6 linked regions of the Homo sapiens genome follow. The protein of the gene in region 5 purifies or fractionates together with the protein of the main gene of each other region. This does not show direct contact. Each region holds a gene or a part of one and is shown on either strand. Other genes may lie near its edges.

The links.
Region 1: the proteins of PRELP (region 5) and TSEN2 purify together in Homo sapiens (affinity purification with mass spectrometry, with the first as the bait; one large-scale study listed by BioGRID). This does not show direct contact.
Region 2: the proteins of PRELP (region 5) and DHRS4 purify together in Homo sapiens (affinity purification with mass spectrometry; 3 studies listed by BioGRID and IntAct, with this or other methods). This does not show direct contact.
Region 3: the proteins of PRELP (region 5) and SIL1 purify together in Homo sapiens (affinity purification with mass spectrometry; one large-scale study listed by BioGRID and IntAct). This does not show direct contact.
Region 4: the proteins of PRELP (region 5) and PON2 purify together in Homo sapiens (affinity purification with mass spectrometry; one large-scale study listed by BioGRID and IntAct). This does not show direct contact.
Region 6: the proteins of PRELP (region 5) and FRAS1 purify together in Homo sapiens (affinity purification with mass spectrometry; one large-scale study listed by BioGRID and IntAct). This does not show direct contact.

Annotation. Positions count from the first base shown.
Region 1 is NC_000003.12:12,531,595-12,534,216, reverse strand, and holds the end of TSEN2 (tRNA-splicing endonuclease subunit Sen2), read right to left. Parts: coding exon 2,558-2,622; intron 1,556-2,557; coding exon 1,496-1,555; 3' UTR 559-1,495; downstream 1-558.
Region 2 is NC_000014.9:23,956,710-23,960,491, forward strand, and holds part of DHRS4 (dehydrogenase/reductase SDR family member 4), read left to right. Parts: intron 1-3,192; coding exon 3,193-3,294; intron 3,295-3,782. UniProt on the Homo sapiens protein: NADPH-dependent oxidoreductase which catalyzes the reduction of a variety of compounds bearing carbonyl groups including ketosteroids, alpha-dicarbonyl compounds, aldehydes, aromatic ketones and quinones.
Region 3 is NC_000005.10:138,946,150-138,950,576, reverse strand, and holds the end of SIL1 (nucleotide exchange factor SIL1 precursor), read left to right. Parts: intron 1-3,103; coding exon 3,104-3,460; 3' UTR 3,461-3,853; downstream 3,854-4,427.
Region 4 is NC_000007.14:95,428,326-95,432,107, reverse strand, and holds part of PON2 (serum paraoxonase/arylesterase 2), read left to right. Parts: intron 1-3,782. UniProt on the Homo sapiens protein: Capable of hydrolyzing lactones and a number of aromatic carboxylic acid esters. Has antioxidant activity. Is not associated with high density lipoprotein.
Region 5 is NC_000001.11:203,478,643-203,482,424, forward strand, and holds part of PRELP (prolargin precursor), read left to right. Parts: intron 1-3,782. UniProt on the Homo sapiens protein: May anchor basement membranes to the underlying connective tissue.
Region 6 is NC_000004.12:78,445,323-78,449,104, reverse strand, and holds part of FRAS1 (extracellular matrix organizing protein FRAS1 isoform 1 precursor), read right to left. Parts: intron 3,584-3,782; coding exon 3,393-3,583; coding exon of another isoform or gene 3,318-3,392; exon of another isoform or gene 2,472-3,317; intron 2,379-2,471; coding exon 2,225-2,378; intron 1,053-2,224; coding exon 789-1,052; intron 1-788. UniProt on the Homo sapiens protein: Involved in extracellular matrix organization. Required for the regulation of epidermal-basement membrane adhesion responsible for proper organogenesis during embryonic development. Involved in brain organization and function.

The sequences.
Region 1 (2,622 bases), on a different chromosome or scaffold from region 5:
TCAGGCTGCACCCCACCCGAGGTAGAGGACTGTGTGGGAGCACAAAGCTGGCCCTGCCCGATGTGGTGGGTGGCCTTCCTTGTTAACCACCACCACCACCAAACAGGGCTCTATTTCTGACTGCATGCAATTTTTAGGATAGCGCCATTTCAGCTGAGATAGTGATCTCAGGTCCAGTCCTCCACGTGCATGACTGGTAGTGATGCACACCCGCCAACATCTCTGAGCTTCAAACACCCCTCTGTGGGTCCCTCCTCCTGAATTCACAAGGCTGCTGCAGGGATAAATACACAGGCATCTGCCGCATCTCAACTCCCACTCTCCAAATGTTTGCTATCACGGTTTGCAAAATATTTTACCCCATATTGGCTATCCAAATTAAATATAACAAACATGTAAGGGTTTGCAGCAATATCATTCAAGTAGTGTCTGGACCCATTAAGAGGATACAGCTCAGGCTACCACCTTAGCCTAAGTATTCTACCACCGAAGAGCAAGTATTCCCCCTTCCCATTTCCCCACCACCCACATTTTTTTTTTTTTTTTTTTTTTTTTTTGAGACAGGACCTTGCTCTATTGCTCAGGCTGGATTGCAGTGGCACAATCTCCGCTCACTGCAACCTCTTCCTCCTGGGCTCAAGCGATCCTCCTACCTTAGTCTCCTGAGCAGCTGGAATTACAGGCATGTGCTACAATGCTTGGATAATTTTTGTTAGTAGAGAGGAGGTTTCACCATGTTGCCCAAGCTGGTCTCCAACTCCTGGGCTCAAGCGATCCATGCGCCTTGGCCTCCCAAGGCCTCCCAAGTGCTGGGATTATAGGTATGGGCCACCATGCCCAGCCACCCATCTCCCTCCTCTTGCCACCAGATGCCCTGAGGCAACTTAAGTCTTCATGACTTTCTCACCAATTACAAAAAGGCTTTATTATATTTTGCCAAATGTTAATCGCTTTCATTATGTCTCCAAACATTATTTCACCACTCATTTTTATAACAAGTGCAGTGAAGATATGCTTATCGAATATTGTACAATACTGTTGTGTTCTGTAACACTCTTTCGGGAACAGCTTAGATGTAGGTAACAAGAGATGCCTGCGTATGAAAGTGCTTCATAAACTGTACTGTATAAATGTAAACTACTACCATTTTCAGGTAAAATCAGAGAATAAATGTCTCTTGTTGGAAGTGTCCTCTCAGGACTCCTCTAGTCCAATCTCCCCAGTGAGTGGATGAGGGAAAAGACTGACGCCAGAGGCAGGAGGCTCTGGATTGGAGAGTTAGAGGCCAACGCAAGTATAGAATCTGCAGTCCTAGCACAGGGATCTTTCTCCTCCCTTGTGTAATTTATCTTTAAAAACACTGATAGTTTTCTGGTGCTGGGAGCACCATGCCCTTTAAAACTTATGAATTAATGGACGATTACAACAAAAAGAACTTTTTACCTAGCCCTCAATAAATAGTTGTTGGTGAAATTAGAAATTTGAGGTTGAATTGTTAAAGATCGTCTTGGTCACTCCTCTCTCGTGAAGAAACCCATCGACTCAGAATCACCTCCTACAACCAATAAAAAAAAAGACCATTTCTTAAAACAGAAATGTAAGACCATTCTGACACCACAGCTGACACCACAGCTACATTTCACAAAGGGCGGTCTATATAATGATGATACTGTTCCCACCTTTAGAACAGAAACATCTGGAGAAAATGAATGTAACAATATAAACCTTACAAGCATACAGTATCTACTTTCACCAGGCAAAGATTTTAACAGCTAAGCTTGCCTCTGCTGTGGTATTCTACTAGCACATTTCAGAAACAGGTGGGCGGGATGAAAGCTAGCATTTTACATTAGAGCTAGGTCTGTGATGGCATTGCTGTAACGGGGCCAGCTACTGAGAAGGGAGAAATGAGGTTGATGAGCATTTTATGAGAAACTAGCCTAGTGGAGATAAGTGGGACCAACTGAAGGGAAGACGTGCTGGGGCCCTGGAGACCGACCAGCAGGTCTGCAGGGGCAGGGTGGTGTGAAAAGAAGACAGGACGACAACAAAGACATACTGGATGTTGGGAGGAGCCAATGGCAACGTTAAGGCTCTACACACAGAGGGAGGGAATGCAGAAACACGGACACACACTAGACAACTCGGCCAGACCAGAGAGAAACAAGCCAAGATGACAGGAGGCGCCTTGGTTCAATACAGAAGCCCAGAAGCAGGAACAAGTCAACAGGGACACCTCTGGTCTCTGGGAATGAGACCTGTGAGAAGTCCTGGCCTGGCCAGGGGGTCACAGGCCACCTGTAAGAGAGCAGTTTCAGCTGAGTGATGGGGACATCACAGGTAATAAAGTGGGGAATTAAGGAATAGAGGAAGTCAGCATAGATTTCGTGTCCAATGGGTTCAATGGGGAAAAGGTGAGAGACTTAAGAGCCTGCCTGAGAAGGCTCTGTTACCAAGGCAAAACTGTATTCATGTATTTTCTTGGGACCACATGTTCCAGATACACTATGATTCACAGAATCTTTGGGATGACATGAATTTCTCTGAGTTTACCCACCTGAACTTTAATCCTTTTCATACATTCTGGTGACTCCATTTCCTTGTCAGTCATAGTAGAGGGTT
Region 2 (3,782 bases), on a different chromosome or scaffold from region 5:
TCTCATGCCTCAGCCTCCCGAGCAGCTAGGATTACAGGCATCCACCACCACGTCCAGCTAATTTTTGTATTTTTGGTAGAGACAGGGTTTCACCATGTTGGCCAGGCTGGTCTTGAACTCCTGACCTCAGGTGATCCACCCCCTCGGCCTCCCAATGTGCTGGGATTACAGGCGTGAGCCACTGTGCCCGGCCATAGCTTCTTAAAAGGATACGTTAAGGACCTTAAAAGGATATGGCCTCTTAAAAGGATATGTTTACACACCCTTGTAGCAAATAAGAAGCCATGTGAGGTTTTGAGCAAGAGAAAGATGGTTATTAGGAAAGCTAATCTGGCTCTGGTAGGAAGGATATACAGAGGAGACACCGAATCCAGGGCATCAGTGAGGAAGCTGTTGCTGTCCTCCAGGTTTAGAGCAGTGGCGGTGGGACTGGAATAGATGTGCCCAAGAGACATTCAGTGGAAACGAACCAAGATTTTCCAACCCCATGTCAAAAAGTGGGAAATAGAGAAGTCAAAAATGACTCTCAAGTAGTTTGTATGACCATTGTCAGAGAGGAGAATGATAGAATACTTGTCAGCAATTTGAAATGTCTTCTGCCAGTTGCCACATGTTACCCTGCAATGAGAAAAGCCACTTTCCTGAGAATGGATACTACCCAGTGGCCTCCTCATCTGGACACCACGAAGCTTCTCACTGGTGTTGTAAGTGGAAACCAGAGTAGCTGCCTATCTCCTTGATTATATTTTTTCTTAAAAATGTATAACTATCAGAACACAGAACAAACAGCTCCTAACCGCTTTGGTGTAGTGATCACACAATTTAGAATAAGACTTAGAAGACTTTCCTTTTTTTTTTTTTTCCAGAGACAGGGCCTCCTTCTGTTGCCCAGGCTGCAGTGCAGTGACATGATCATAGCTCACTGTAACCTCGAAGTCCTGAACTCAAGCAATCCTCCCACCTCAGCCTCCCAAGTGGCTAAAACTATAGGCATGCACCACCACACCAGTTCATTTTTTAAATTTTTTGTAGAGTTGGGGCTGTATTTCCCAGGCTGTTTTGAACTCCTGGCCTCAAGTGGTCCTCCCCACTGGGCCTACCAAAGTGCTAGGATTATAGGTGTGAGCCACCACACCCAGCCTCATTCATCTTTTATGGTTTGCTGTCTCTGTTCAATCAAAACCCAGCCTCCTCCCATCTCTGTGCTGACAGACCTGGAAGGAGAGGAGTATGGGGTATACAGCAGAGTAGAAAATGTCTCCAGGTGATTCTAGAGCAATCCATTGTCTCCTCCCAGCCCAAACACATGTGTACTGAGCACGGCGCACATCACTTATTAACTTACTCTGCACCTCCCTAGTAACAAGTCCATTGGTGAGACTTACACAGAGCCAAGGCAGGTGACTTGGCTTTGTGCCAGGATACCAAAATTTAAAGGGTGCAAGAAAGTATTAATACTGGTTTTAAAAGATTATGTGACTGTAAATTTTGTTAGATTTACACATTGACAGCCCAGCATTCCTTCAACTGTCTAGAAACAACTGAGCTTAGCACCTAGTTAACAAGAATAATTAGTTAAAACGGGAAGCTAGCAGATGGTGTACATTGTTAGTAACACCCCTCTGTGTGCCAAATCCGGAGCACAAAGTTGACCGAGGGCCCGTGTACTGCAACTTGCCCAAGGCATCAAAATTGCCAGTTCCGGGCAAACGGAAAGTCTGGTTTCAGGGTGGCTTTGTACTGAAAACCCTTGTTGGCAGATTCTGCTTGGCCATTCATTACTCTAGCACAGGCCTCACTATCTACTTATAACTTATTAAGGAGGTGAGATGTTGCCTTTCTTCGCCTTCTCAATTTAAATTTCAGTTTCTGCCTTGAATCTTTCATGCCTCCAGGTCAAAAGAGAGAGACAGAGACAGGGAAAATGACATCATAACCAAATATGGAATTGCTTTAAATTCAGGCTGGTATCTTCTCCCATCACGGCTCTCCTGGGCAACCAGTTTCCTGATGACCCCAACTCACTTTCAGAGGGCTCTTATGAATTAGCTCTGTGCTACAAAGTGGGAGACTGACCTCAGTTCTTCCACCACTAACTAGCTTTGTGCCCTGAAAACATCACTTCACCCCTCCCAAACACAGAATAAGCAGGCCTCCTGTTCTTACCTAGCCCCAGTGTGCCACTACTGAACTATAAGATCTTGAGAAAATTCTCTGAACCTATTTCATCATCTCCACCTTAAGGACACTGGAATAGATGATCTCAAAGGCCCCTCCAGGGTAACTTTCTACAGCTCTATTTAAGCCAGTTTTTCCATTCAGGTAAGTGTGGACAGATTGACTTTGAGATAATGGTAACTTATTCAAGGAGAACTGGACAGTAAGCACTTGGAGAAATGTGGGTGGAACTCAGTGTGAAAGGAAGAGGAGGGGTCTGGAAATAGATTTTGGGGTGAGACTTGAAATCATGAGAATGAAGGAGCTTCCCAAAGGGGAAGTGTAAAGAAAAGAGCGTCAGAGACAGCCTTGGAAGAATAGGAGGTGGGAAGAAAACACTGCAAAAGAAATAGGGCCAACTTCCTGGTGGGTCGCGCCTGTAACACTTTAGGATACTGAGGCAGGTGGATGGCTTGAGCCCAGGAGTTCCAGACCAGCCTGGGCAACATGGCAAGACCCTGTCTCTATAAAAAATACAAAAATTGCCCGGGTGTGGTGGCACGCACTTGTAGTCCCAACTACTTGGGGGGCTGAGCCAAGAGGATGGCTTGAACCCAGTAGGTCAAGGCTGCAGTGAGCTGAGAACATGCCACTGTGCTCCAGTCTGGATGACAGAGCAAGACTCCGTCTAAAAAAGAAAGAAGCCAACCTTAAATGGTTAGCGGCAGATCTTAGGGTAGTTTTCAAAAAAGATGTTTTAAGAAATAGAAGTTATTTTGACGATAGTTCCTAAGTAGGAAGATTTTGTTGTCATTGTTGTTGTTGTTTTTAATATAAAGATAAGGTCTCGCTGCATGGCCCAGGCTTCTCTCAAACTCCTCAGCTCAAGTGAGCCTCCCACCTTGGCCTCCCAAAGTGCCATGATTACAGGCATGAGCCACAGCTCCTTGCCCAGAAGGAAGTTTTTATCAACATGGGTAAATGCACCTCCCTTACTTACTGCAGCCCTGGTCCAGAACTTACCCCTCTCTCTAGGCTGTGAAGCTTCATGGAGGTATCGATATCCTAGTCTCCAATGCTGCTGTCAACCCTTTCTTTGGAAGCATAATGGATGTCACTGAGGAGGTGTGGGACAAGGTGAGAGGGGATTAAAGCAGGGGGGCCGGGGGGGGCGCCTTGGAACACATTCAGCACAAACTCCATCTGCTTTTAGAATGCATTTCTCAAGGGCAGTGTAAATGTGAGGACTCTTTGCCACGTGCCACACACCTGGAGCACACCTTGCAAAGGGCGGGTGGGGGTGGCTCTATCCCTGCCCTTCTCATTCGTTTCTGCTACTCCTAGTTCTCTCTGCTTCTATCTGCTCTTCACTAGCCACAGTCTGCTCCTCTCCCCAGGCTTTTTCCCTGGCATGCTCTTCTGCCTTGTTGATTTCCAACAGAGACGTAGGCAGCTAATATGCCAACAACTACAACACTTAATTTACACACCCACCTGTCCCCTTTTCAGCTGACAAAAAGTAATTATTTTTTACGAGTTGGGAAATATTAAATGCTGCTCCTTATTTAAAATACTAATTCTGGTGAAATGACCAGTTGCCACTTTATAACATACATCCTTTAAAA
Region 3 (4,427 bases), on a different chromosome or scaffold from region 5:
GCAGGGCTTCCTCAGTTGCCTCTCTCGGGCCACACGCTCCCCAGAAGAGCCGCATGCCGACTAGTGGAGCAGGGCTGGGCAGCCGCTGGAACTGCTGCCGAATGGTGGAGGCTGGGCCCCTCACTCCCTCTGCACACGCCTCCCCCAGGCCTTCTCTCCCAGGCAGTGTCGGGATGGCTGTGGCCACCTCTGTCCATCACTGTCTCTCCCCAACTCTCTGTCTTTGCCTGTTTCTCTCTCTTCTCTTGTTAAAGCTGCAGAAATCCAGTTTCTTAGAACAGCAGGCAGCCATGTGGTGCTCAGATCCAATTGATAAGGCCTGGGCACAGTTCAGGTTCTGGGACTGGGCCAGTGAGCCTGGAGAAGGACATGTCAGCTGGCTGGGCATTTCCCAGGGAAACTGGGCTCTGTTCTCTGGTGTCTTGGGTGTGTGTCCCTGCTGCCCCCAGCCCTGGCATCCTGGGCACTATGGCACTGACACATTGCTAGCACACTACCACCAGGCAGGCTCACCAAGGCTGCCCCGAGGCTGCCGGCCCCGGGAGCCTGCCTCTGGAAGCTTTGGGGTGCTGACATGATTGGGGAGGGGAGGACTGGCATCTCTCTACAAACAGTACAGAAATGGCCCTCTTCTTTCAGGGAGGACAGCAGATAAATTTCAGCCAGAGAGATTTAGGACACACTGTACTTGGGCTGAGGCAGTCAGGGCTTCTCTGTTCTTGTGATTTCTTTTTTCTTTTTTCTTTTCTTTTCTTTTTTCTTTTTTTTTTTTTTTTTTGAGACAGGGTCTCTCTCTGTCACCCAGTGGCACGATCTTGGCTCACTGTAAACTCTGCCTCCCAGACTCAAGTGATCCTCCCACCTCAGCCCCCTGAGTAGCTGGGACTACAGGTCCATGCCACCATGCCTGGTTAATTTTGTTCGTTTTTTGTAGACAGGGTCTCACTATGTTGCTCAGGCTGGTCTTGAACTCCTGGGCTCAAGCAGTCCTGCCTCAGCTTCCCAAAGTATTGGAATTATAGGCGTGAGTCACTAAGTCCAGCCTCTTGCAGCGCTTAAGAATGAAGACCTAGCCAAGCTAGGGGTGGGTCCAGAGCTGCCTGAAGGTGGAGGGACATGAGCTGTCCACCACGATGGAGGGGTGCCATGCAGCTCGGGGATCACTGCAGCATGTTGTCATGACAGCCAAGGACTGTGGAATTCCCATGGGCAATGTGACACCCCCATCAGGGTGCTGGGGTCTGCCAGGCCCCAGGCAGTCCTCATATGTACCTTGGCCTGTGAGAGGACCTCTACTGAGAGACCATGCCCTGACATCTGGGCTTCTGCAGTGGTGAGATGCCTGCCTGGGGTTTGGATTCCATGGCCTCTGGTGCATCTGAGGAGCTGAAGGGCCGCAGGGGGACCCTGCCTGCCTGTGCTGCCTGCTGTGCCGGGTGCTGGGAAAATAATCCGCAGTCCCTGTCGTCCCTGAGCTTTCAGGCAGATGTTTATCAGAGAATTCCCCTGAGCTTGTGTTGTAGTCTGTCTGCTGCTGCTTTAACAGAATACCCGGGACTGGATAATATAAAGAAAAGGCAGTTTTTGGCTCATGATTCGGGAGGCTGGGAAATCCACGATTGGGTGGGTGCATCTGGCGGGAGCCTTTGTGTTGCATGACAACATTGTGGAAGGTGAGAGGGCAAGAGCACTTGCGGAAAAAAGCATGCTGGGCCGGGCTTGCTCTCTAGAATAACAACCGCTCTCCCGTAAGGAACCCGCTGCCCTCCTGACCTAGGCAGCTCCTCTCAATACTGCTGCCTTGGGAATTAAGCTTCCAACACTTGAACTTTTAGGGAACACACTCAAACCACAGCAGCATATAAGCAGAGAAGGCCAGTCAGGGGAGGCCGGTCAGTGGCGGTGAGGTGTGCAGGGAGCCGTGGAGTGAATGGGGCCAATGCGGGGGTGCACCTGGAAGTCGGAGCTGCGCCTCCAGAGGCCCCAGGGGAGAGTTAGAGTGACAGGAGTGGGTGTGAGTGGGTCCAGGCCGCGCACAGTGGGGGCAGAGCCTGCAGAGCCTCGCAGTCCCAGGGAAGGGATTGATTTTGTCTTTATCACCCGCAATGCCAGGCTGTGAGGGTTTGGGGGCTGGAGGAGAGGGTGAGAGCAGGAGGCACTGGATCGCAGGACACAAGGGACAAAGGTGGAGCTGACAGAATTGGGGTGTGTTTTGGAAGCGAAGCTGGCAGGACTGAGGGGTGAAGTAGGAAAGGACTAGGGGATACCTCTCAGCCTCTCCTGTCCCAGGATGCAGGATTGCACCCCTCCTCAGTTTCCTCTGCCAGCCCCAATCAGCCCCACGACTTCCTGCTGCCGCAGGAAGCACAGGTGGTCCACTGTGGCCTCCTCTTCTCCTGGGCTTCCCTCTTGCCTTGTGCATCTTCCCTGTGCTTCATTCTCCCCTGGAGTTAGGGCAGGCATTCCTTCTTTCTCCATACAGGCACACTTCCTACAGCTGCACGGGAGATCTCTGCCCCCTCCCAACCCTCTACCTCTGACCTTCAGGTAACCTGCCTGCTTGTCATGGTTCAGGTGTTGGCTTTCCCGCTGCTGGTAGCCCGGCAGGATTGGCTCCCACCATGTTCTGCTGATAGAGCTGGGCTTCTGCGCTTTACAGACAGGCTGAGTTTCTCCACTTAGGAGGTGATGACGATGAGTCTCAGGGAGGCTAAGTGCCAGCCATGGTCATTCAGCAAGTCAGTGGTGGAGCAGGAATTTGAAGCCAGCCTGTCTGCCTCCATGCTGCACTGTTAGATTACATTTATGCTATTTGGGAATTAGTTAATTTTTATTCTCCTGCTAGACCTTAAGCTCCTTGAGGGTAAGACTATGTCTCCATCGTGGTTTCTTCAGCACCTGGCACCACACAAGTGTTTCTGTTGGTGGATGAATGAATGAATAGACAGACAGACTTGGGGATAGAGGAAGAGGTGGGCCCTCAGGGGTCAGCCTCGTGCCTTCCTGTCTGAAGGGCAGAGCTAGCCAGGTGTGAGCTAACTGCTCCCTGTGTGTTCTCTCCCCACCCCCACCCTACCTGGCCTGCGGCTGTGGCGGATGGCAGATGTTCGCCGAGGAGGAGGCTGAGCTGACCCAGGAGATGTCCCCAGAGAAGCTGCAGCAGTATCGCCAGGTACACCTCCTGCCAGGCCTGTGGGAACAGGGCTGGTGCGAGATCACGGCCCACCTCCTGGCGCTGCCCGAGCATGATGCCCGTGAGAAGGTGCTGCAGACACTGGGCGTCCTCCTGACCACCTGCCGGGACCGCTACCGTCAGGACCCCCAGCTCGGCAGGACACTGGCCAGCCTGCAGGCTGAGTACCAGGTGCTGGCCAGCCTGGAGCTGCAGGATGGTGAGGACGAGGGCTACTTCCAGGAGCTGCTGGGCTCTGTCAACAGCTTGCTGAAGGAGCTGAGATGAGGCCCCACACCAGGACTGGACTGGGATGCCGCTAGTGAGGCTGAGGGGTGCCAGCGTGGGTGGGCTTCTCAGGCAGGAGGACATCTTGGCAGTGCTGGCTTGGCCATTAAATGGAAACCTGAAGGCCATCCTCTTTCTGCTGTGTGTCTGTGTAGACTGGGCACAGCCCTGTGGCCGGGGGGTCAGGTGAGTGGTTGGGTGATGGGCTCTGCTGACGTGCAGGGCTCAGCCCAGGGCATCCAGGAACAGGCTCCAGGGCAGGAACCTGGGCCCAGGAGTTGCAAGTCTCTGCTTCTTACCAAGCAGCAGCTCTGTACCTTGGGAAGTCGCTTAATTGCTCTGAGCTTGTTTCCTCATCTGTCAGGAGTGCCATTAAAGGAGAAAAATCACGTAGAAAGCTTCACACTAGTGCTGGCACCCCCCAGCTGTGAGGTAAGGCAGGGAATCATCTCACTGCCCCTCTATCGGTGCCCACATAACAGCCTCAAGGCCGCTGACCTGGCCGGCGCCTGAGGCCTGTCCATACACTGGTGCTGTGGTGACCCAGGCAGCTGATGGGCTTGACAGCTGCTGGAGTGATGGGTGCTGGAGCAATGGGTGCCGGGGTGGGGTGCTGAGAGGTGCTGGACTCTGGAGGCCCAGGGGCCAGGCCTTACTCTGGGAGAAAGCTGGCAGTGGGAGCCCAGGGGAGCCCAGGCCTGCCTGGCCCACCTGACAGGGGAGAAGTGCCTCTCTGTGGCCTTGCACCACTTCTGTGTCCAAGCAGAAACAGGGCCAAGCCCAAGGAGGAGGCCTCAGAGCTGGGAGCAGCCGTGCCTGGCGAGTCCCGGCCCCTACCCAGGCTGGCGGAGTCCCGGGCTGGAGCTGGCTGCAGGTTGCCATGGCAACCCGGGCTCTGGGCTTTTCAGACTCGGATTCTGGTGTGTTTGTTTCTCAGCTTTCCCAGTGCACCAGAGGCTTGCTCTTG
Region 4 (3,782 bases), on a different chromosome or scaffold from region 5:
CTTTTCTTTACGTGACTGTGATGCACTTTAATGGGCAGTGACTTTATAAAATGGTAACTTTATTGGATATGTGGAGCCCCAAATGGGCTGACGTGAGAATGTTGGGGTAGGTGGTGGGTGGCTGGATTTAGCAAAGAAAAATGTAGGCTACCCAGTTAACTTTGAATTTCACATGGATTTTTTTTTTTTTTTTTAGTATAAGCATGAAATACTTATACCATACTTTTAGCATTAAGCGTGGAATTTGGGACATAATTATACTAAAATATCATTCATTGTTTATCTCAAATTAAAATATCACTGGGTACCCTGTATTTTATCATATGTTCGAGTGCCTTCTGTCAGAATTTGGTGACCCTTTGAGTCTGTTTTAAAAAGGAGCATGTTTGGCCGGACACAGTGGCTCACGTCTGTAATCCCAGCACTTTGGGAGGCTGAGGCGGGCAGATCACTAGAGGTCAGGGGTTCAAGACCAGCCTGGCCAACATGGTGAAACCCCGTCTCTAATAAAAATACAAAAATTAGCCAGGTGTGGTGGTGCATCCCTGTAATCCCAGCTACTTGGGAGGCTGAGTCAGGAGAATTGCTTGAACCCCAGAGGTAGAGGTTGCAGTGAGCCAAGATTGAGCCACTGGACTCCAGCCTGGACAACAGAGAAAGACTCCCTCAAAAAAAAAAGAAAAAAAGCATGTTCCCACCTCCCCATAAGGAAAGGCTCTTCAGAGGAAGTTGAAGGAACAGAGGCTTTATGTTTGATTTTTGCTTTAATCTGATGCCTACTGTTTGATTATTCAATATTTAGAGATGGTACTTTGGCAATCAAGTTATTTCTCTCCCCAGGTTGCCCACTTCAATTTTTAGTATAAGGATGTCCCAGAGGGATAAATGCCATCAAAGTTGTCTTTCTTCTTCTGAACTGTAACTGGGATTCCACACCCTCCTTTTCCACCCCTCCCTAGTTGAGCAATAAAGGGGAAAATAACAGTATACAAATATTCCCAGGCCAGTTCCTGGTGTCAAGGTACACAGCCATGGATGAATCATGAGGCTTGAGTGCATCAGAGACCTAAGCGTGGGCAGGAACCCCCAGAGTACCCATGTGAATGTTCTGCTTGCTGCCTCGCACCTTTTATGACAATTCCCACAAGAAGCTATGTGGTCTGTTTCTACTTCTGAAAGAGCAGCCTTTTTCCCTTTTTTTTTTTTTTAAACCACCATCCTTTAAATCATTTATTATGTAACTCTTGTGTGCTGGTCAGTCAGTGTGTCAAAAGTGTAAAAACTTCTTTATTTATTTTTTTAATCTATCTTTTAAAAAATATTTTCTTTCTTTTTTTCTTTTTTCTTCAAGGCAGGTTCTTGCTCTGTCACCCAGGCTGGAGTGCAGCAGCACAATCATAGCTCATTGTAACCCAGAACACCTGGGCTCAAGCAATCCTCCCACCTCAGCCTCCTAAGCAGTGAGGACTATAGGCATGCACCACTACACCTGGCTAATTAAAAAAACATGGCCGGGCACGGTGGCTCATTACTATAATCCCAGCACTTTGGGAGGCTGAGGCGGGTGGATACCTGAGGTCGGGAGTTCAAGACCAGCCTGACCAACATGGTGAAACCCCATCTCTACTAAAAATACAAAATTAGCCAGGCACGGTGGCACATGCCTGTAATCCCAGCTACTCAGGAGGCTGAGGCAGGAGAATCACTTGAACCCGGGAGGCGGAGGTTGCAGTGAGCCATTGCACTCCAGCCTGGCAACAGAGCGAGACTCTGTCTCAAAAAAAAAAAAACAAAAAAATTTTTTTGTAGAGATGGGGGTCTTGCTGTGTTGCCCAGGCTGATCTCAAACTTCTAGCCATAAGTGATCCTACCGCATCAACTTCCCAAAGCACTGGGATTATGGGTATGAGCTACTGAGCCCTGCCAAATTTCTTTATATTAAACCAAAACGTACATTTACTGATATTTGGAAAGAAAGCTCTTTTACTTTTATGCCTTCATCCAGTCTTCATAGATATCTTCCCTTTTACATTATAACTGTAAATACTGAGGTTAGAGAGGTTAACTAGTTAGTTCAACAGAATAATATAAATATTGAATAATATAATTAATGAATAATTAGTGCTGAACCTGTCGCCTCAGCCAGGTCTCCTGATTCCAAATACAGTTTGCCCCAGCTCCCCACAGTCTTCTAGCTTCTCTGCCAGTGGAGCAAATTTTCCCTAGGTTTACAGGCCTAAGCACAGATTCTTAGTTACTTAGTGCAAGTATTGCCAGAGCCCAAGGGGTGAATTCCAAAGGGTTTTTACAAGGCTATACATAAAAGATAAAGCCCTGGCTTGTATATCACTTGCACATAGGAGATAAAGCCCCAGCAGTTGTATGTAAATTTCAAAAGCAGAGAAGTATGGCACAAAGAAACTCCTGATAGTAACACTGTGTTCCCACTTTGCTTAGGGGCATATTGGCACCGTAGCATGGTACACCCTTACTGCTACCTGCCATGAGGCCAGATAATAGCTAGCAGCCCCTGGTCTCATTCTACTCTGGATGGGTACTGCTGTTTCCTGAATGAAAGACACTGAGATTGATTTCATGCTAATGACTGTTGGTTAAGAGTTCATGCTTTCTATTCACAATAGCAAAGACTTGGAACCAACCCAAATGTCCGTCAATGATAGACTGGATTAAGAAAACGTGGCACATATACACCATGGAATACTATGCAGCCATAAAAAAGGATGAGTTCATGTCCTTTGTAGGGACATGGATGAAGCTGGAAACCGTCATTCTTAGCAAACTATTGGAAGGACAGAAAACCAAACACCACATGTTCTCACTTATAGGTGGGAATTGAACAATGAGAACACTTGGATACAGGAAGGGGAACATCACACACCGGGGCCTCTTGTGGGGTAGGGGGAGGGGGGAGGGATAGCATTAGGAGATATACCTAATGTAAATGACGAGTTAATGGGTGCAGCAGACCAACATGGCACATGTATACATATGTAACAAACCTGCACGTTGTGCACATGTACCCTAGAACTTAAAGTATAAAAAAAAAAAAAAGTTCATGCTTTGTGGACAGGTAGCCTGAGTTCATTCATAGCTCTACTATTTACCTGAAACCTTGGACTAATTATTTCACTTTTCTGTGCCCCAGTGTTGTAATCTGTAGGATGGGGTACTGCCTGCTCCACAGTGGGACTATGAGAATGCTTAAAATAATGCCAAGCGCACAGTCAGCTCAATAAATGTCATCTATGTAGACAATGAAATTCAAGCATAATTCCTTAAACCTTTGTGCCATACATCCCTTTGGCAGTCTGGTAAAGCCTTCATTCCTTCTCAGCATCATGTTTTTAAATGAGTAAAATAAAATATATAGGATTACACAGGAAACCAATTAAATACTGCTACCAAGCTATTTAAAAATCTATGATATAATATGCTTTTTAAATTAAACCCTTAAATGGATCTAGAGGTAGGTAAATGTCTAACAGCAGATATTTTGAAGTTGCAATGAATGTAAATGGCACTTTGAGCTATCTACAACTGAAATGCGATAGAAAAGTATCTATAATTTCTATTAGTGACAGTCACAAATACTACTAATAGTATTGTGGTTTGTTGCTTATACTCATCATCAAAGGAAATACTCAATTTGAGTTAAAGGTTTAAATAAAGATGTATTTTTCCCCCATCCAAGTTCATGGATCCCTGAATTCTACCCATGGATTCCTTGGTCACTGGACTCCATAGGGGTCACTTGGGGAATG
Region 5 (3,782 bases):
TGAGGCCCAGAACAGGGTTCGCATCACTAGGTAGTGGTGGAGGGGTGAGAATCTTCTCTCCTAACTAGTATGCACCACAGGCTCTCCTCCCACTGCCCCAGGCAAGCTCATCCTTGTATCGTTTCACCTTCCTAGAAAGGGGCATCTTGAAGTCATCATGCCCCCATAAGGCTCCTTTGTTATCTCAGGACCACATCAGCCCTAATGGGGGCCTTGAAAGGGCCTCAGGCTCACTCCTCTACTAACTCTGCTCATAAATTGGCAAAGACTGCTTGATTCTCCCTGCTTCCAACACCCTTCTGGACTACAGGAAGAGATACAGAGAGCAGGATGGCTTTCAGACACCTAGGTTGAGAACAGAAAGAAGGGAAAAAAGAGAGAGGGGTGTTCCGACATTCACCGGCACAGCGCTAGGTCAGAAGCAGCCCCATTCTCCACTGCAGGGTAGCTCTGGGTCAAGGCATGGAGGCTTAGGGGTGACCAATTAGACAGGAGATCTGACAAGTAAGAAGAATGCCAGTTCAGAGTGCGGCGTAACCCTGCTGCTAGCCCTGCCTAGCCCTGGGAGACAAACCCAACCTCATTCCCAGCCCAACCTCAACCTCTCCATACAAAGCCAATTAGCCTTAAATAGCTGCTCCTAATGACTTGACCAACCCATCAGGACTTCCACCCAACCCTGCCCTGAGCAGAAACATTCCACCACTCCTGGGTTTTAACATTAAATTAATGAGAGAGATAGGGAAGGGGGCTATCTCACTTTAAAAATCAAGGAGTCCTTGGGGCGCTGTGGCTCATGCCTGTAATCCCAGCACTTTGGGAGACTGAGGAGGACAGATCACTTGAGCTCAGGGGTTGGAGACCAGCCTGGGCAACATGGTAAAACCCCATCTCTACAAAAAAGACAAAAATTAGCCAGCTGTGGTAGCACATGCCTATAGTACTAGCTGCTCAGGACGCTGAGATGGAAGGATCACCTGAGCCCAGGGAGGTTAAGGCTGCAGTGAGCTGTGATTGCACTACTGCACTCTAGCCTGGTCAACAAAGGGAGACCCTGTATCACCAAAAAAAAAAAAAAAAAAAAAAAAAAAAAATCAAGGAGTCTCTCTAGAGAATCTGCTGTTTATAAACAAATAAATGAGTAAGTAAGCCTCTGCCACTTGCAGAGATTTTGCACTTTATAACATGCCTTCAAATGCATGATCTCATTTGATCCTCACACAGATGAGGAGCCCGGGTTGGAGAGTCAGAGCCAGGAGTCAAGCCCAGATCCACAATAGTTGGAATTGAAATTAGAATTTAAAACTCTCTTAGAGGCTGGGTGCAGTGGCTCACACCTGTAATCTCAGCAATTTGAAAGGCCGAGGTGGGAGGATTGCTTGAGCTTAGGAGTTCAAGACCAGCCTGAGCAATACAGTGAGACCCCCATCTCATTTTTGTTTAAAGTGAAAAAAGAAAAAAAAATTAAGATTCTCTTAGGAAACGTTCTTTAATGTGGAGAGTGAATGTTGGGTTGGGCAAAGCAATTGCCTTTCTCTTCCGTGAAGCAGCAGCTTTTCCAGAACTGATGGTGGAGAGCAGAACTGCATGCAGTTGGCTGTTGTAGGTGGTCAACAAACCTTCACTGATTGAGCAATGAGCAGAGCCCAGTAGAAAGCTGTGGGTGGAGAAGTGCACTTGTGAAAGCATAAGAAAAATTTAAAAACACACACATGGACCCATCCTAAGGAATCTTATGATTGGACAGAAGTTTCTAGAAGGCAGGAGCATAGAGTGTGGGTCTGAGGCTTTGTAGGAGGGACTATGACTACCCATGGAGTCCAGGTACCCTCAGTCTGTCACACAGATTCTGGTTTCAGAGACCTAGGACATCACGGAGCACTGCCAGAGAGAATGGCTGTGCTGTCAGCTGTCAGAACTTTTCATCCTGCCTCATGGCAAAGCTCCGGCAGGAAGGGGCATCACCCCATGAGAAAAGCCTTAGAAATGAATGCTATTTCCTTAAGAGAGAAGCATCCCTGCACTTGGAATGGTTCTGATTCAGCCCTGGGGCTGAGGGAAGGGGAGGAGAGCAGGCTCAGCTTCCCCACATAACTTGCTCCTGGGAGCATTTCCTGGGGAACCTCCTGTTGGCTCTGGGAGCAGCTTGGCTAGGCCCAGAGGTTTGGAATGTAAACGGGTCAGAGGACTAGTGAAAAGATAAGTTCCCAAAGGGTCTGGTGCTGCACATGGGGATGAGGAAGGCCTGTGTTTACTGTGGATGAGAAGGCGCGCACAGCCAGCCTGCTGGGTGGAGCTGTGAGTAACCTGCCTGTTCCTCTCACCCCTGACAATGAAGACCAGGGCTGCCCTGGCACTGAGCCAAGGAAACCCCGCCCCGCCCAGCACAGGTCACAGCCACAGTGCCTCACTGCTTTTGCTGGAAGCCCTGGGCAAATTGGTGCCCAGTCCCTGGCATATGCTTTCGGTGACAAAGGCAATGAAGGGATATAGAAAAACTCCCGCCAGTGCTGGGAGCCTCCTTGGGACAGGGCTTCTCACAGTATGAAAGATTTCTAGATCATTTCTAGGCTTCTGGGTGATTAGAAAATAAATTTTTTTTTTTAAATCAGGGTCACAAAAATTGAGGCTTTTAGAAATGTTTGTTTTAGAATACCAATGCTTTAACTACCCCCTTAATTTATATGCAAGATGACTGTTCTGTTTTCCAGAAAATTACAGAACTTACACAATGTTAATTCATAGTTCACCAATTACAAGTGAAGTGGGGTTCAGCCAACAAGACTCAAGCTTAAAGTTTTGCAATTAATGCCTTCTCTTTTTAACCCTTGCAATGTATCTCTGACAATGTTATATCCTTAACGGGAGATCAAGCCAAAAACCTAACTGCAAGGTCCTTTGTGATAGGAGGCCAGGGAAAATGGCCTTCCAGACCTCCTTGGAGAGGCCTGCCTTGGAAGAGACCACCTTAGAGGGAGGTGGAGAAAGACAGTCTCTGCCTTCCTTCCCTTCCGCCTTCCTTCTTTCCTTCCAATACTCAGTGTACTGCGTATGGGCTCATATACGCACACAGAGGATAAGTGAGTGAGTTTGCTTATGTGCATGGGACCTGAAGAGGTGTGTGTGTGAGTGTGCAGACTGGATCTGCTGTTAAACAGCATCTTGGCCTTGGCGAGCCACTTCTTCCTTCCAGTCCTCAGTTTTTGCAAATGGTGGGGTCTGGAGTTGATTGGTGGATTTCAAGCCATTTTTAGCAAAGAAACGTGTCCCCTGCCCCTCAACAAATGAATGCTTCGGCTAAACCTCAATATATATAATAGGTTTTTTTAAAGAGAGCTGCTGAGGTTGGCACAGGGATGGGTTGAGGGTACCCCAGGGCCATCTCCTCAGTCTCCTCCCCACAGGGGTATGTCACAGAAATGAAAGCAGAGTTGGAAAACCACTAGGTTATAGGATCTTTAAGGACCTTTCTGGATTTAACCAGGACGCTAAGGTTCATACATCCTAACATCCCTCTCATGAAGACACTGATGATTTTCTCATGCTGTGAATGGGAGGACTGAGGGCCAGAGTGGTTAAGGGTCTTCTCTGACAAGCCCCAGGACTCCTGACTCGGAGTCCAGTGTGCTTTCTTTCTTTCTTTTTTTTTTTTTGAGAAAGAGTTTTGCTCTTGTTGCCCAGGCTGGAGTGCATTGGTGCAATCTCGGCTCACTGCAACCTCCTCCTCCTGGGTTCAAGCGATTCTCCTGCCTCAGCCTCCCAAGTAGCTGAGATTACAGGTG
Region 6 (3,782 bases), on a different chromosome or scaffold from region 5:
TGAAACAGTAACAGGATAGTTTATTAGCTTATAAGTAGGATAAAGTCAAATCTCAGACTTGATATTTAAGACCTTTGAGAACTACCAAGTTTTCCAATACTATTATACCATACATTTTTCACTGCAAAATACACATGAAACTAAGAACAAACAAACAACAGAACTCTAGTAAGATGCAGACACCCTGGGCAAAAGGTCCACTTCTTAATTAAGTAACTTCCTACTGCAAACTGTTCAAGACTCACACTTGTCACAGGTCCTCCAATGTTGCTTAAACATGAGCAAAATTGTGAATGTTAAACCCTAGAATACCATATCTGATAATTCTCAATTATTTGTATAATCACTTTTAATGCATGATGGTTTCCCAGCTTACCCTCCATGCATTTTGTAAAAAAATAAGCGTCTTAAAAATTCTGCTATATTTCGTTATTTGTTTCCATGGGGTTTGTTGAATGGGAGTAATGTTAGAGGAAACCTGGGCCTAGGAGGAGTTGAATAAATTAAGATTTTTGAGGGCCCTGGAAATATTATAAACTCTTCTCAATCTTTTCTCTAATTCACAGACATAAGCATTTGGTCCAAAGAATTTTAGAGGTTCACATTTGTCACTAACAATTCTTAGTATCCCAAAAACAATAGTTTTCCAAGACTCCAATCTCCCCAAGTATGGAACAGGTACTTTAAGATGCACCCACATCACTAACATGGAAGAAAGTACTGCATACTGGACAAAGAAGAAATAAGGATAGAAAAACCATGGCCACTCTCCTTTATTTCTGTGGTACCTGCTGAGAGCTGTAGGCCTTGGTTTATAGCCAAGTGAGGTGTGTCACTTGCAGGCAGTTCTGTGTAGATCTTCATCCTCCCTGTGTCCACGTGGAGGCCATCAGTGAGGGAGAACTGGAACTCATCCACGACCATGCCAGGGACACTAGGCACATACCCAACCAGCCCAGCTAGGATATCCTGGTAGGTGAAGGTTGAGCCCTGGACTAAAACTCTCCCATTCTCCAGAGGCTCAGAAGCAGTTTGCCTCCAGAGTACATGACCTGAGGGAAGAGGTAAAGAAAAGCAAAACAATGGTAGAATACACATATATATATGATTCAAAACATTGTCTGATTTTTCCAAGTAGTATGAGTCTGGGTAGAATGTCAAGTGCCTCAGAGGCTCTTGGTGCCAACAGCTTAGCATTTTACATATAACCACAGGGTGCTGCTCTGTGGCCTCATACACAAATAAAGAAGACAAAGTCCCACTTATCCTAGCTAAAAAGTCTCTTAAGGAGACACAGATGGATGTGGTAATACAGTGACTTACAAATCATATCTCCCTCCATGAATTTAAACTCACTTCATTATCTAAATCTTATTTTTCCCTTTTGCAAAGTGAAAATAGCACTCACTGTCTTTCTCTTAGGGCATCTAGAGGCAGAGATGAGAATATGCTTTAAATTCCTTTTCAATTAAGAGAGACACTAAGCATCTTTAGATTGAAGCATATATTTCTGTTCTCAAGGGTCATGTACCGCAGTGGGACAGTCAAAGTGCTTCATTCAAGAAAGCGAAAGTGAATGGAAGCCAGCTAAAATACAATGCCCAACAGTTTTTTCTATTAACCCTTCATCTACTGCAACAATTTAATCTTTAAAAGACCAATGAGCATTACGATGAATTGAGACACACCACTTGCATTCCAGAACTTTAGCCAATAACTGGAGAGATGGCTCTTAAAAAAAAGAAGTAGGTAGAAGGTCCCAAAAGTGGCTTCTGCATCTGGTTTAAATGAGGAAAAGTGTTTTTTTTTTTTTTTTACAAAAGGAACAAGTTCATAAAGACATCTAGTATGCCTCTACAAGGGTACATAAAATGGCTCAAGATTATTAAACACTGATGTCTACCCTGAGAAGACAATATGGGAACTCTGAGAAGAGAATAGGCAAATTCTGAAAACTTTTTTGCTTAAGGTTACATAGAAAAGCAAAAAAACGGCTGAAATTTAACTTCAGAGACACCAATTAACTGGGATTGAGGCTTCTTAAACAACTGATGTCTACCAGGACTCCAAAAAAATATTAGCCAGCTGTGAATTTGATTACACTTTGATGCAAAGAATGTACCATATACAAGAAAAGAAATAGTCAACTGAAATATTTGTGTTTATTCTAACAGCCCATCGGGCATCTCAATTAAGAAGCTTTTCATAGCAGTTCGTGCCCTACCGTGGTCAGGCTTTTTTGTCAATACAAAAATGAGCTCATTATCTGGGGTGTCCAGGTCTTGCAGGCTCAAAGAAGAATTGCTTATCACCACTCCCGAGCTCAGCTGCACTCTGAGGGGCTGCAAGGTCATCCTGGGAGGCTCATCGTTCTTCCTCTGATTAAAGCATAAACTATTAGATCTCACACAGATATTTAAGAAGAAAGAAAATGCACATTATTCAGAGACAGTATCATTGCTACAGAAATGTTCACCTCAAAATAGCATTTAATGTGGCACCATCTTTACTTCCCAAGCAAAATAGTTAGTTTGAAAAGAGAGCAAGTCCAGGCAACAAAATGCCCCCTTCAAAAGAAGCTGATGGACATTTCATAAAAGTTTTCTCAGATATCTTCCGTAAGTACAATGACCATATTTTCTAGACCAAAAATATGGATATGTGCTTTGACAAGTACAAGTATTAACATACTTTGAAGATAAAAGACCATACTAATATAACTCAGAACTCTCTTAGAAAATGCTAAGCATACCACAGTACCTGTAGAAGGACACTATATTTGAAAGTGTGGGTCTCTAAAGCTGTCTCCCTGCCCTGGTGCCAGCCCCTTTCCACCACTGACCCTTAAGAGTGCAGAGGGTTCTTTACATTTTATTTTCCCAAGGCAGAGGGTATTTCATTCTGAGATTTATCTTTCCCCTCCCCTGTGTCTCTCTCTCGGTAGAGCAAGCCTGTGTAGTTGCTCAAATGAGAATAAATACAGCATCAAGGAACACATTTCTTTGATGTTACAATTAAATAAATAAATGCAGTAAAATAAGAAAAGGCAAATATGCATATAGAACCAAACACAATTTCAGAGAAACATAGACATATGTAAGTTTTCATTTATATATGAGACTGGCAAAGCATCTCTGACCTTCACAAACTGTTTTTCACACCGAACAAATAAATTCAATCCTGAAATGGAAATTTAGATTTCTAACTCAAGCCTTCCCCAAATGCCAACCTTAATTCTACAAGATTCCTGAAGGCTATATTTTAAGAACGACCTTCAATTTTGAAGGTCAAATCCAATCTTCTTTGCTTTTGAGTCCCTATAAAGAAAGCTCTCTAATGGTGTGAAATATTGTGGTCAAGGGCTCAACCTTTCCAACTTCCAAAGTCTTTACCTCAATGGTGATATTGATGCTGTGAATTTCTGAACGACTGGTTCCATCACTCACATAAAAACTAAAAATATCATGGGTTGGCTCAATGCTTTCATGAACACTCTGAAAGTAGTAAATGTAGTTTTCCAGGACGTCTTGAATAGGAAATGATGCCTCTAGGTCACTGGCAGTTTCAGGGCCAAAACGATCACCTGCATCAACATCAAGAGAGCATTTTTACCTTGATCTATCAATTCCTGCTTACTAGGCTGAACTAGAAAACAAGGTATCATTTTCGGCAAAAAAAAAGAAAATGTATTTGAGGATAAAGTTGGGAGAGTGGGATAAGCACAAGACCAGGAATTGGAAGGCCTGGGTCAGATCCGTTTCCTCACTGACTATTTCTCATCT